3 linked regions of the Homo sapiens genome follow. The protein of the gene in region 2 interacts with the protein of the main gene of each other region in a biochemical or structural test. Each region holds a gene or a part of one and is shown on either strand. Other genes may lie near its edges. The genes, in order: G6PD, CDC42 and MCF2.

Region 1 (3,209 bases), on a different chromosome or scaffold from region 2:
CCCTACACAGCCAAGCACCCCACGGTTTTATGATTCAGTGATAGCATCACCATGTCCTTCCTTGATTTAAGGGGACCTGGAAGACAAGGGGGATCAGGAAGTGAGTCTTGCAGCTTGTCACTAGGAAGCCTTGTTTGGGGTCCCCATGCCCTTGAACCAGGTGAACAGGGCGGGGAGCTAAGGCGAGCTCTGGCCTCTTCCGTCCCCAGGGACGTGATGCAGAACCACCTACTGCAGATGCTGTGTCTGGTGGCCATGGAGAAGCCCGCCTCCACCAACTCAGATGACGTCCGTGATGAGAAGGTAGGGGGTGCACCCCAGTCCCCAGGAGCATGCCCTGTCGCAGGCCCATCTGTGACGAGGCACTGAGCTGGGGTGTGCATGCAGAGCAGGTGTCCTCAACCCCGGAGAAGTCACCACCTCTGAGCACAGCGTGGCCTCCCGGAGGTGACCTGGACTGGCAGTCATGAAGCCCAAGTTGTCATGTCCCAGGCCTGACAGTCACTATGTGACCAGGGAAGGCCATTGCCTCTCTGGGCCTCAGCTTGTTCATCAGAATAGACTCGAGATGGACCAGGGTGGTCCTGGAGGGTCCTCAGGGAGGGGCCCTGAGCTGGGCCTCTGGCAGGGTGAGCAGAGCCAAGCAGGGGCCTCCTCCTGCCCTGAGGGCTGCACATCTGTGGCCACAGTCATCCCTGCACCCCAACTCAACACCCAAGGAGCCCATTCTCTCCCTTGGCTTTCTCTCAGGTCAAGGTGTTGAAATGCATCTCAGAGGTGCAGGCCAACAATGTGGTCCTGGGCCAGTACGTGGGGAACCCCGATGGAGAGGGCGAGGCCACCAAAGGGTACCTGGACGACCCCACGGTGCCCCGCGGGTCCACCACCGCCACTTTTGCAGCCGTCGTCCTCTATGTGGAGAATGAGAGGTGGGATGGTAGGTGATGCCTTCGAGGCCCAGCAAGGCAGAACTGGGCATGCCCTGTGTGCGGGCACTGGAGCTCCCACTGAGACACTCACGCACTGGTCCACACCCTGAGAGAGCTGGTGCTGAGGCTGCCCTTTCCGCCACGTAGGGGTGCCCTTCATCCTGCGCTGCGGCAAGGCCCTGAACGAGCGCAAGGCCGAGGTGAGGCTGCAGTTCCATGATGTGGCCGGCGACATCTTCCACCAGCAGTGCAAGCGCAACGAGCTGGTGATCCGCGTGCAGCCCAACGAGGCCGTGTACACCAAGATGATGACCAAGAAGCCGGGCATGTTCTTCAACCCCGAGGAGTCGGAGCTGGACCTGACCTACGGCAACAGATACAAGGTGCCCTACAGAGAAGGAGCAGTGTGGAGGGTGGGCGGCCTGGGCCCGGGGGACTCCACATGGTGGCAGGCAGTGGCATCAGCAAGACACTCTCTCCCTCACAGAACGTGAAGCTCCCTGACGCCTATGAGCGCCTCATCCTGGACGTCTTCTGCGGGAGCCAGATGCACTTCGTGCGCAGGTGAGGCCCAGCTGCCGGCCCCTGCATACCTGTGGGCTATGGGGTGGCCTTTGCCCTCCCTCCCTGTGTGCCACCGGCCTCCCAAGCCATACCATGTCCCCTCAGCGACGAGCTCCGTGAGGCCTGGCGTATTTTCACCCCACTGCTGCACCAGATTGAGCTGGAGAAGCCCAAGCCCATCCCCTATATTTATGGCAGGTGAGGAAAGGGTGGGGGCTGGGGACAGAGCCCAGCGGGCAGGGGCGGGGTGAGGGTGGAGCTACCTCATGCCTCTCCTCCACCCGTCACTCTCCAGCCGAGGCCCCACGGAGGCAGACGAGCTGATGAAGAGAGTGGGTTTCCAGTATGAGGGCACCTACAAGTGGGTGAACCCCCACAAGCTCTGAGCCCTGGGCACCCACCTCCACCCCCGCCACGGCCACCCTCCTTCCCGCCGCCCGACCCCGAGTCGGGAGGACTCCGGGACCATTGACCTCAGCTGCACATTCCTGGCCCCGGGCTCTGGCCACCCTGGCCCGCCCCTCGCTGCTGCTACTACCCGAGCCCAGCTACATTCCTCAGCTGCCAAGCACTCGAGACCATCCTGGCCCCTCCAGACCCTGCCTGAGCCCAGGAGCTGAGTCACCTCCTCCACTCACTCCAGCCCAACAGAAGGAAGGAGGAGGGCGCCCATTCGTCTGTCCCAGAGCTTATTGGCCACTGGGTCTCACTCCTGAGTGGGGCCAGGGTGGGAGGGAGGGACGAGGGGGAGGAAAGGGGCGAGCACCCACGTGAGAGAATCTGCCTGTGGCCTTGCCCGCCAGCCTCAGTGCCACTTGACATTCCTTGTCACCAGCAACATCTCGAGCCCCCTGGATGTCCCCTGTCCCACCAACTCTGCACTCCATGGCCACCCCGTGCCACCCGTAGGCAGCCTCTCTGCTATAAGAAAAGCAGACGCAGCAGCTGGGACCCCTCCCAACCTCAATGCCCTGCCATTAAATCCGCAAACAGCCCCTCCTGTCCCCTTGTCATTTGCTTCCCTGAGGACCCACTTCCTTGTCCCACTCCCCAAGTCACCCGGGTGCTTCCTCTGTGGCCACTGAGGAGCCTCCTCACTTCTGGTTCTGACCCCATGTCCAGCCATGACCATGTTTGGTGTCAGAGACACCTCCTGAGTCCTCCTCCGCTCCACGCATATTGTCATTGTGAGACCAGCTTGAGGTGCAAGGATGTGGGGTCACCTTCCGCTCTTACTGTCCATGTCCCTGCCCCACCCAAGATGACTTCCAGCAACACTGCCAGTCCACAGAAGTATTTAGGAAGGAGAGGGGATGGGTTTTGTGACTGATGTCAGAGGCCAAGGGAGAGGGGACAGTCCACAGTGATGCACAGCCAGGCCCAGCCACCCCTTCCAGGCAGAAGGGCCACACACTGGGCAGCTCTCAACATAGGCTGATTCTCCCAGTTCTGGAGGCCAGAGTCCAAGATCCAGCACTCCCGCCAGAGGCCCAAGGGGAGGGTCCTTCCTGCCCTCTCCAGCTCCTGGGGAACCAGGCATCTTGGGCTGGTGGTCACCTCACTCCACTCACTCTGCCTGTCTTCTCGTGGCCTCCCCATGGTGTGACTTCTATGTCCTAACTCAGCGACATCTGCAGACCTCCTATTTCCAAATAAGGCCACATCAGGAACTCCCAGGAGACATGTATTTGGGGGCCGCTGTTCAGCCCCTGCACT
Region 2 (3,500 bases):
CCACAGAAAATTTGAGGGGTGATAAAAATGTTACACATTTTATTATGGTGGAGGGTCAGCAAAATGCATCACACTGAACACTTAAAACGATTTTTTTTTTTTTAAAGACGGAGTCTCACTCTGTCAGCCAGGCTGGAGGGCAGTGGCAGAATCTCGGCTCACTGCAACCTCCGCCCCCTGGGTTCAAGCAATTTTCCTGTCTCAGCCTCCCAAGTAGCTGGGACTTAACAGGCATACACCACTACACTGGGCTAATTTTTGTATTTTTAGTAGAGATGGGGTTTCACCATACTGGCCAGGCTGGTCTCAAACTCCTGACCTCAGGTGAACTGCCTGTCTCAGCCTCCCAAAGTGCTGCAATTACAGGCGTGAGCCACCGCGCCTGGCCTTAAAATGATTTTTATTGCACTACGCATCAAAAAAGCTTTCAAAAGTACTCGCCAGAAAATGTAAAGGCTTATAAATAATAAACTTTGAAATCTGAAAATACTAATTTTCAACCACAAGTAGCCATAAATTATCTTTTCTCGCCAGGCGCAGTGGTTCACACCTGTAATCCCAGCACTTTGGGAGGCCAAGGCGGGCGGATCACCTGAGGTCAGAAGTTCGAGACCAGCCTGACCAACATGGAGAAACCCTACCTCTACTAAAATACAAAAAAATTAGCCGGGTATGGTGGCGCATGCCTGTAATCCCAGCTACTCAGAAGGCTGAGGCAGAAGAATCGCTTGAACCTGGGAGGCGGAGGTTGCGGTGAGCCGAGATTGCACCATTGCACTCCAGCCTGGGCAACAACAGCAAAACTCCATCTCAACAAAAAAAAAAAATAAAAATTTTCTCTGTGCCTTTGGACACAAATGAACACAGAAGAAAACCCCTCATTTATCATGACATTATGGGTCATTGTTTTCTCTATATTCCAAATTTAATATACCATTACTTTTATGATTTTAATGTATTAAAAATTTCTCTAATCTTTACTGTCTCTCCATTTCACGTTCTCAATTAAATCCAAATAGTTCCTCGTGGTACACAGTGTAACACCACATTCCATGGAAGCAACATGTTAACTTGCAAACAGTAACAGTAACTCAAAGCACAAAGTTTAGAATTCCTACATTCTAAAGATACTCTAAAGGATATCTTTCTGAGATTTTCCTCTGGCTAACTGAGCTGATAATAAGACGGCACATAGAGAAAAGTCAGAAATTAAGATGTGCAGCCACTCTTGAAAACAAGAAATAGCACTGAGGAATTAGGTACATTTAAGGAAGAAAGTAATTTGTTCTTACAATTTGGATAGCTGACAAATGTCAATACTGTGAGCAGATAATAGTTCACTCTCAAAATATTTTCAGATACAGTTTAAAATAAGCTATCTATCGTAAGAAACTAAACATGTTATTAGACACATAAATTGAATATGCCTTCAAATATCAAGAGAGTAATAATAATAAATACTGTAAATGGCTTATGACCTTATAACCTTAGGCATATTTAGGAAACTCTAGGCTTTAAAAAGGAGCAGGTAGGGGTGAAGGGAGAGAATCAGTGGGCATGATTCCTATGAATTCATTCCCTTAGTCCCTCCCCAACCACTAATGCAGTCCCCAGTTCTCTGCAAGGTGCACGCATCAGGATTTTAGTTCAATTTGGAGCTTGTATGATGCACTCTAGTCTCACTCTACTTCATCTACTACACTGTTCACCCAGGGTACTCCAAACTCCTATTTGCCGACCCAGGTCTGGGACTGCTCCTTGGTCAAGCATCGACAATCATTATATTCAATCCTGCTAACTAATAACAAAAGGCAAGTACTTTGCTCATGTGCTAGTTTCTCAAAATGTCCACAAGAGACAGACAACTAGCAACTGTTAAAGATCAAAACAGTATAAAAGACATTAAGTTTTCACCTGCAGTATCAAAAAGTCCAAGAGTATATGGTTCTCCACCAATCATAACTGTGACTGCATAGTTGTCAAAAACCTAAAAACAAAAAAATACAACACTGTTAGTGTGCAAGGAGAGAGTTAAAATGGGACAGGACAACTCTTAAGCTAAGGCAGTGTTTCCTTGCTAAGACTTAATCGTCCCCTAGTCCATCCATCATCCTTATATAACCAATCTTGCCAACCAGTCCTTGCATGAGCTAAATGATTCCTGGAAAAAGACAAAGGATGTGTTCTGAGATTTCTGCTCTACCCCAGCAGCCTGGATAAAGAGCCAGAGAAGGTTTAGAGGTGTCACAGGAGCAGAGTCCTCTAGCTACACAAAATGAACCTGTTCAAGTTTGAAACTTTTCAGACAGTGGTCTACCTCAACATTCAATCTGATTCCTAAGAAACTACTTCTTCATAGACCATTTCCTTTTCATCTAGAAATAAAATATCCTAGATCCATGACCTTTCTTCCTTTCAGAGTCCTAGAAAAGATGAGCCTTGTTATAAACAAGCCCATTTGAGAGAAATAACGGTTCCCTCAAAGTACTCAAAGTGTCCAAGAAAAAGCTGGCAGATTATTTGCTGGGAAGTTTTTTTTTGAGACAGAGTCTCACTGCGTCATCCAGGCTGGAGTGCAATGGCATGGTCTCGGCTCACTGCAACCTCTGCCTCCTGGGATCAAGCGATTCTCCCACCTCAGCCTCCTGAGTAGCTGGGACTACAGGTGCATGCCACCACACCCAGCTAATTTTTGTATTTTTAGTAGAGACAGAGTTTCACTATGTTGGCCAGGCTGGTCTCAAACTCCTGACCTCATGATCCACCTGCCTCGGCCTCCCAAAGTCCTGGAATTACAGGTGTGAGCCACTGCACCCAGCCAGCTGGGAATTTTATGAGTAAAATTCATGTTATTGGGCACAAACTGCATGATCTAAGACATCTTCTTTAACAAGATGCTTAATATGTAAATAGACCATAAAACCCTTATCAAATTCAGTAAAGCATATGCTAATATCGGTTGTACGAAGTTATTTGTGAAAATGGGAGGTTTAACAATGCTAAATGGGAAAAGACCCAACACAAATTCTGGAGTCTTTAGAATTAATTTACAATTGAAAAGCAATGCTTTCATATACAACTATAATCTGTCAATTTACAGTAAAAATTTTAAAATTAAATGATATCTATAAAAAGAAAAGCAAAGCTTTCCAACTAGGAGAAGAATGCCACATTTTAAGACCAGCCCTACTTAACTTTTAGGTACCTACTCTGATTTTCTGACTTATGTTTTAACAGATTGTTCCAGAGCTTATTTAAATGTAAAGAAGAGAAGCAAGGGCATGAGGGAGATGACAGTTAAAGGAAAGTCGGTTCTTAAAAACAGGAACAAAGAAATTGAATGAATGTGGTTAAGCTCTCAAACCAAACAGATTATTTTCTTAAATCACACTTAAGAGACTCAAAAACAACCCTCCTTTACTAGATTGTTCATATCCAAAACTAGACTAAGAATCAGAAAAGCTGGCTTCCATTCCAAAGTCTACTTATGCTAGTGTAAT
Region 3 (3,831 bases), on a different chromosome or scaffold from region 2:
CAAAGAAAATGAAATCAGTCTGTCAAAGAGATATCTACACTCCCATGTTCATTGCAGCACTCTTCACAATAGCCAAGATATGGAAGCAACCTCAAGAAAATATTTTTTATATATACTGTATATATATATATATATATATATATATATGAATGATAGCATTCGTGTCTATATAGTGTATATATATACGAATAGCATTCGTATATATAGTATATGCTATATATGCTATGTATATAGTATATGCTATATATGCTATGTATATAGTATATGCTATATATACTATATACATAGTATATATAGCATATACTATATACATAGTATATGCTATATATACTATGTATATAGTATATGCTATATATGCTATGTATATAGTATATGCTATATATGCTATGTATATAGTATATGCTATATATGCTATGTATATAGTATATGCTATATATGCTATGTATATAGTATATGCTATATATACTATACTATATATACACAAATGCTATTCAGCCTTTAAAAAAGAATGAAATTCTGTCATTTGTGACAGTACGGATGAACCTAGTGGACATTATGCTAAGTGAAATAATCCAGACACAGAAAGAAAAATACTGTATGATCTCACTCCTATGGGGAATCTAAAAAAGTCAAACTCATAGAAGTAGAAAGTAGAATGGTGGTTTCCAGAGGATGGGGCAGGGTTTTGGGAGATGTTGGTCAAAGGATGCATCATTACACGTAGACAGGAGGACAAAGATCAAGAGATCTATTTTTTAATTTTTAAATTTTTTTTCATATTTTTATTTGTATATATTTTTTGAGATGGAGTCTTACTTTATTGCCCAGGCTGGAGTGCAGTGGTGTGATCTCAGCTCACTGCAACCTCTGCCTCTTGGCTTCAAGCGATTCTCCTGCCTCAGCCTCCTGAGTAGGTGGGATTACAGGTGTCCGCCATCACACCCAGCTAATTTTTGTATTTTTAGTAGATATGAGGTTTCACCATGTTGGCCAGGCTTGTCTCGAACTCGTGACCTCAAGTGATCCACCCACCTCGGCCCCCCAAAGTGCTGGGATTACAGGTGTGAGCCGCTGCGCCCTGCCAAGAAACCTATTGTACATCATGATAACTATAGTTAATAACAATATATTGTGTACTTGAAAACTGCTAAGAGAGTAGATTTTACATGTTCCCACCACAAAAAGGATACATATGTGAGGTAAAGAAAGTATTAATTAGCTTGATTTAGCCATTCCAGGATGTATACATACATCAGAAATCATATTGTACACCATACAATTTTTATTTGTCGTGTACAAAAAAAGATATGCCCAGCTTCTTCTGCATTTTGTGCAGAAGTATTTTGTTTTCAAACTGTCGGGCTAACTCTTGAGTGGGCGTTCTGTTTCTCCAGATTTGTCCTTGTAAATAAAAAAAAAAATTAGGTCTCCTTCCTCTACTGTGATACAGTGTATGATTTATAATTTTGTTTCTGGGTTCTACTTCAAGTCAAGGCTTCTCTACACTTTCAGTTGCTGACATCAGATTGGCTTTGAAACTTTTTTTCATGTTAAGAGCAAGAAGGCTTTTGTTCTTGGAGCAGGCAGAGAGTATTGTACATTCTTTTGGCCGAGGAAACAGAATGAGCTGCGACAGTCTTAAGGACAAACATTTGTGGTAAGTATTTCTTTACCTTAGAGTAATATAAGAAATGGATTGGGGCAATGAGTGGGTCAGTCTTGGAATATTTTTATAGATAGCATCCCCCATAGCCAGTCATTTTCATTCTTGTAGTAGTTTCCCCTTTTCCCCAGAATCCCCCATTTCTAGGACCAATGATTTGCAGGACACAGTGCAGTTCTTGTAAAGGTGTATCTGTCCATACAGACCGCAATAGCCTGCTTTGGGTTTCTCTGACAGTTCTTTGTCTACTGTTCAGTTTTTTCTAAAATAATTAGGATTCCCAAGTAAAGGCAGGTGGGAATTTCTCAACTCTGGATTAGAACTTCACCACTGTAAACCTGGAACTATTAGTATAACAAATCTGGTGTGCACCTGGGCTTCATGGGATGGCTGTACCTTGGTGTGGTTCCTATGCAATGTATGGGCCTCAGTCTCTGAGCCGTCTAGGGATTAGGACTTGAGAAATTGCCTTGTGAACTTGCATATGGTTGGCTTATAAATTTGGACAGCAGATTATTTATTTTCAGTGGGTAAAAGACCATTCCATTATTTGTGTCCAGTTCTTTTTAAGCACGCAAATTTTCCAGACCAAGAAGAACTACCTTGGTCCCCAGAAGGTAGCCGGGGGGATGTAGACTTGGAGAGCAAAGAAAAATGGGAGGTCTTGAGGGCAATCTTCCAAAAGAATATGGTGATGTTTCTCACATTTTTTAAAGCAGGGTCTCTAGTGAGGCAAAACCACATTTTATTCTTGCCTCTATAGTATTTATTTGTGGAGGTAGAAAGTTTCTGGGGAAGGAGTGGGACTGTTTATATGAAGAACCTAGAGGTCTTCTCAGAATGAAAGGATTGGAAACTCCAACCCTTTTTTTCTCTGATATGCAAGGTTCTTGAAAGTTGCTTGAGGGGCCCAAAAAGATCCTAAGGAAAACTCACCAAACTTGGTGAGAAAGAGGTAGAAAGGGATGGGAGCAGCTCCCTCCCAGAGCCCTCCATCCTTCTTTTTTCATCTGAGCTGGTTACTCTGCCGGCTAGCTGCACATCTCTTTCTGAAATTCCCTTTGTCTGTGCTCCTGTATCGGATCATTATTTCCTAGATTCATTGTCTTGCTCTTCATTGATGTACTTCATCATTTTTTTGGGGAATACATTCTCTACTAACTTCTTTATATGGGTTATAAACTTTTATTAATAATAATAATAATAATAATTATGTCTGAAAATATCTTAGACAACCTTTATTTTTGTTTGAGAGTCTGACGCAGTATAAAGTTCCAAGCTGAAAAACCTTTTCCCCCCTGATTTTGTGTTTATTTTTCCATTAGTTTGTAGAATCCAGTGTTGCTATTGAGAAGTTCAATGTCATTTTGTTTCATTTTTTTTCAACTTTAATTTTAGATAAGGGGGTACATGTGCAGATTTGTCATATGGGAATATTACATGATGCTGAGGCTTAAGGTACAGATCCTGTCATCCTGGTAGTGAGCATAGTACCCAATAGTTGTTTTTTTTTTTATCCTCCCCACCTCCCTGCACCCTCTAGTAGTCCACAATATCTGTTGTTCCCATATTAATGTCCATGTGTGCTCAATGCTTAGCTCCCTTCATAAATGAGAACATGTGGTATTTGGTTTTCTGTTCCTGCACTAACTTGCTTAGAATTATGGCCTCCAGCTCCGTGCATGTTGCTGCAAAGAATGATTTCTTTCTTTTTTATGGCTGCCTAGTATTCCATAATGTATATGTAGCACATTTTCTTTATCCCATTTACCACTGATGGGAACCTGGGTTGACTCCATGTCTTTGCTATTGTGAACAGTGCAGTGATGAACATACAAGTGCATGTGTCTTTTTGGTAGAATAATTTCTTTTGGGTACATACCCAGTAATGGGATTGCTGTGTCCAGTGGTAGAATTGTTTTAAGTTCTTTCAGAAATCTCCAGACTGCTTTCCACAGCGGCTGGACTAATTTACATTTCCACCAACAGTGTATAAGTGTTTGCTTTTCTCTGCTGCCTTGCCAGCCAGCATCTGTTGTTTTTTGACTTTTTAGTAATAGCCATTCTGACTGGTGTGAGATGGTATCTCATTGTGGTTTTGATTTGCATTTCTCTGATGATAGTGATGCTGAGTATTGTTTCATATATTTGTTGGCCATTTGTATGTC

What was found.
Region 1: the proteins of CDC42 (region 2) and G6PD form a complex in vitro, tested with the Homo sapiens proteins (one large-scale study listed by BioGRID).
Region 3: the proteins of CDC42 (region 2) and MCF2 form a complex in vitro, tested with the Homo sapiens proteins (2 studies listed by BioGRID).

What each region holds. Positions count from the first base shown.
Region 1 is NC_000023.11:154,530,670-154,533,878, reverse strand, and holds the end of G6PD (glucose-6-phosphate 1-dehydrogenase), read left to right. Parts: intron 1-209; coding exon 210-303; intron 304-750; coding exon 751-937; intron 938-1,076; coding exon 1,077-1,312; intron 1,313-1,416; coding exon 1,417-1,493; intron 1,494-1,598; coding exon 1,599-1,691; intron 1,692-1,788; coding exon 1,789-1,879; 3' UTR 1,880-2,488; downstream 2,489-3,209. UniProt on the Homo sapiens protein: Catalyzes the rate-limiting step of the oxidative pentose-phosphate pathway, which represents a route for the dissimilation of carbohydrates besides glycolysis.
Region 2 is NC_000001.11:22,080,209-22,083,708, reverse strand, and holds part of CDC42 (cell division control protein 42 homolog isoform 1 precursor), read right to left. Parts: intron 1,988-3,500; coding exon 1,915-1,987; intron 1-1,914. UniProt on the Homo sapiens protein: Plasma membrane-associated small GTPase which cycles between an active GTP-bound and an inactive GDP-bound state. In active state binds to a variety of effector proteins to regulate cellular responses. Involved in epithelial cell polarization processes.
Region 3 is NC_000023.11:139,705,932-139,709,762, reverse strand, and holds the start of MCF2 (proto-oncogene DBL), read left to right. Parts: upstream 1-1,595; 5' UTR 1,596-1,657; intron 1,658-3,831. UniProt on the Homo sapiens protein: Guanine nucleotide exchange factor (GEF) that modulates the Rho family of GTPases. Promotes the conversion of some member of the Rho family GTPase from the GDP-bound to the GTP-bound form. Isoform 1 exhibits no activity toward RHOA, RAC1 or CDC42.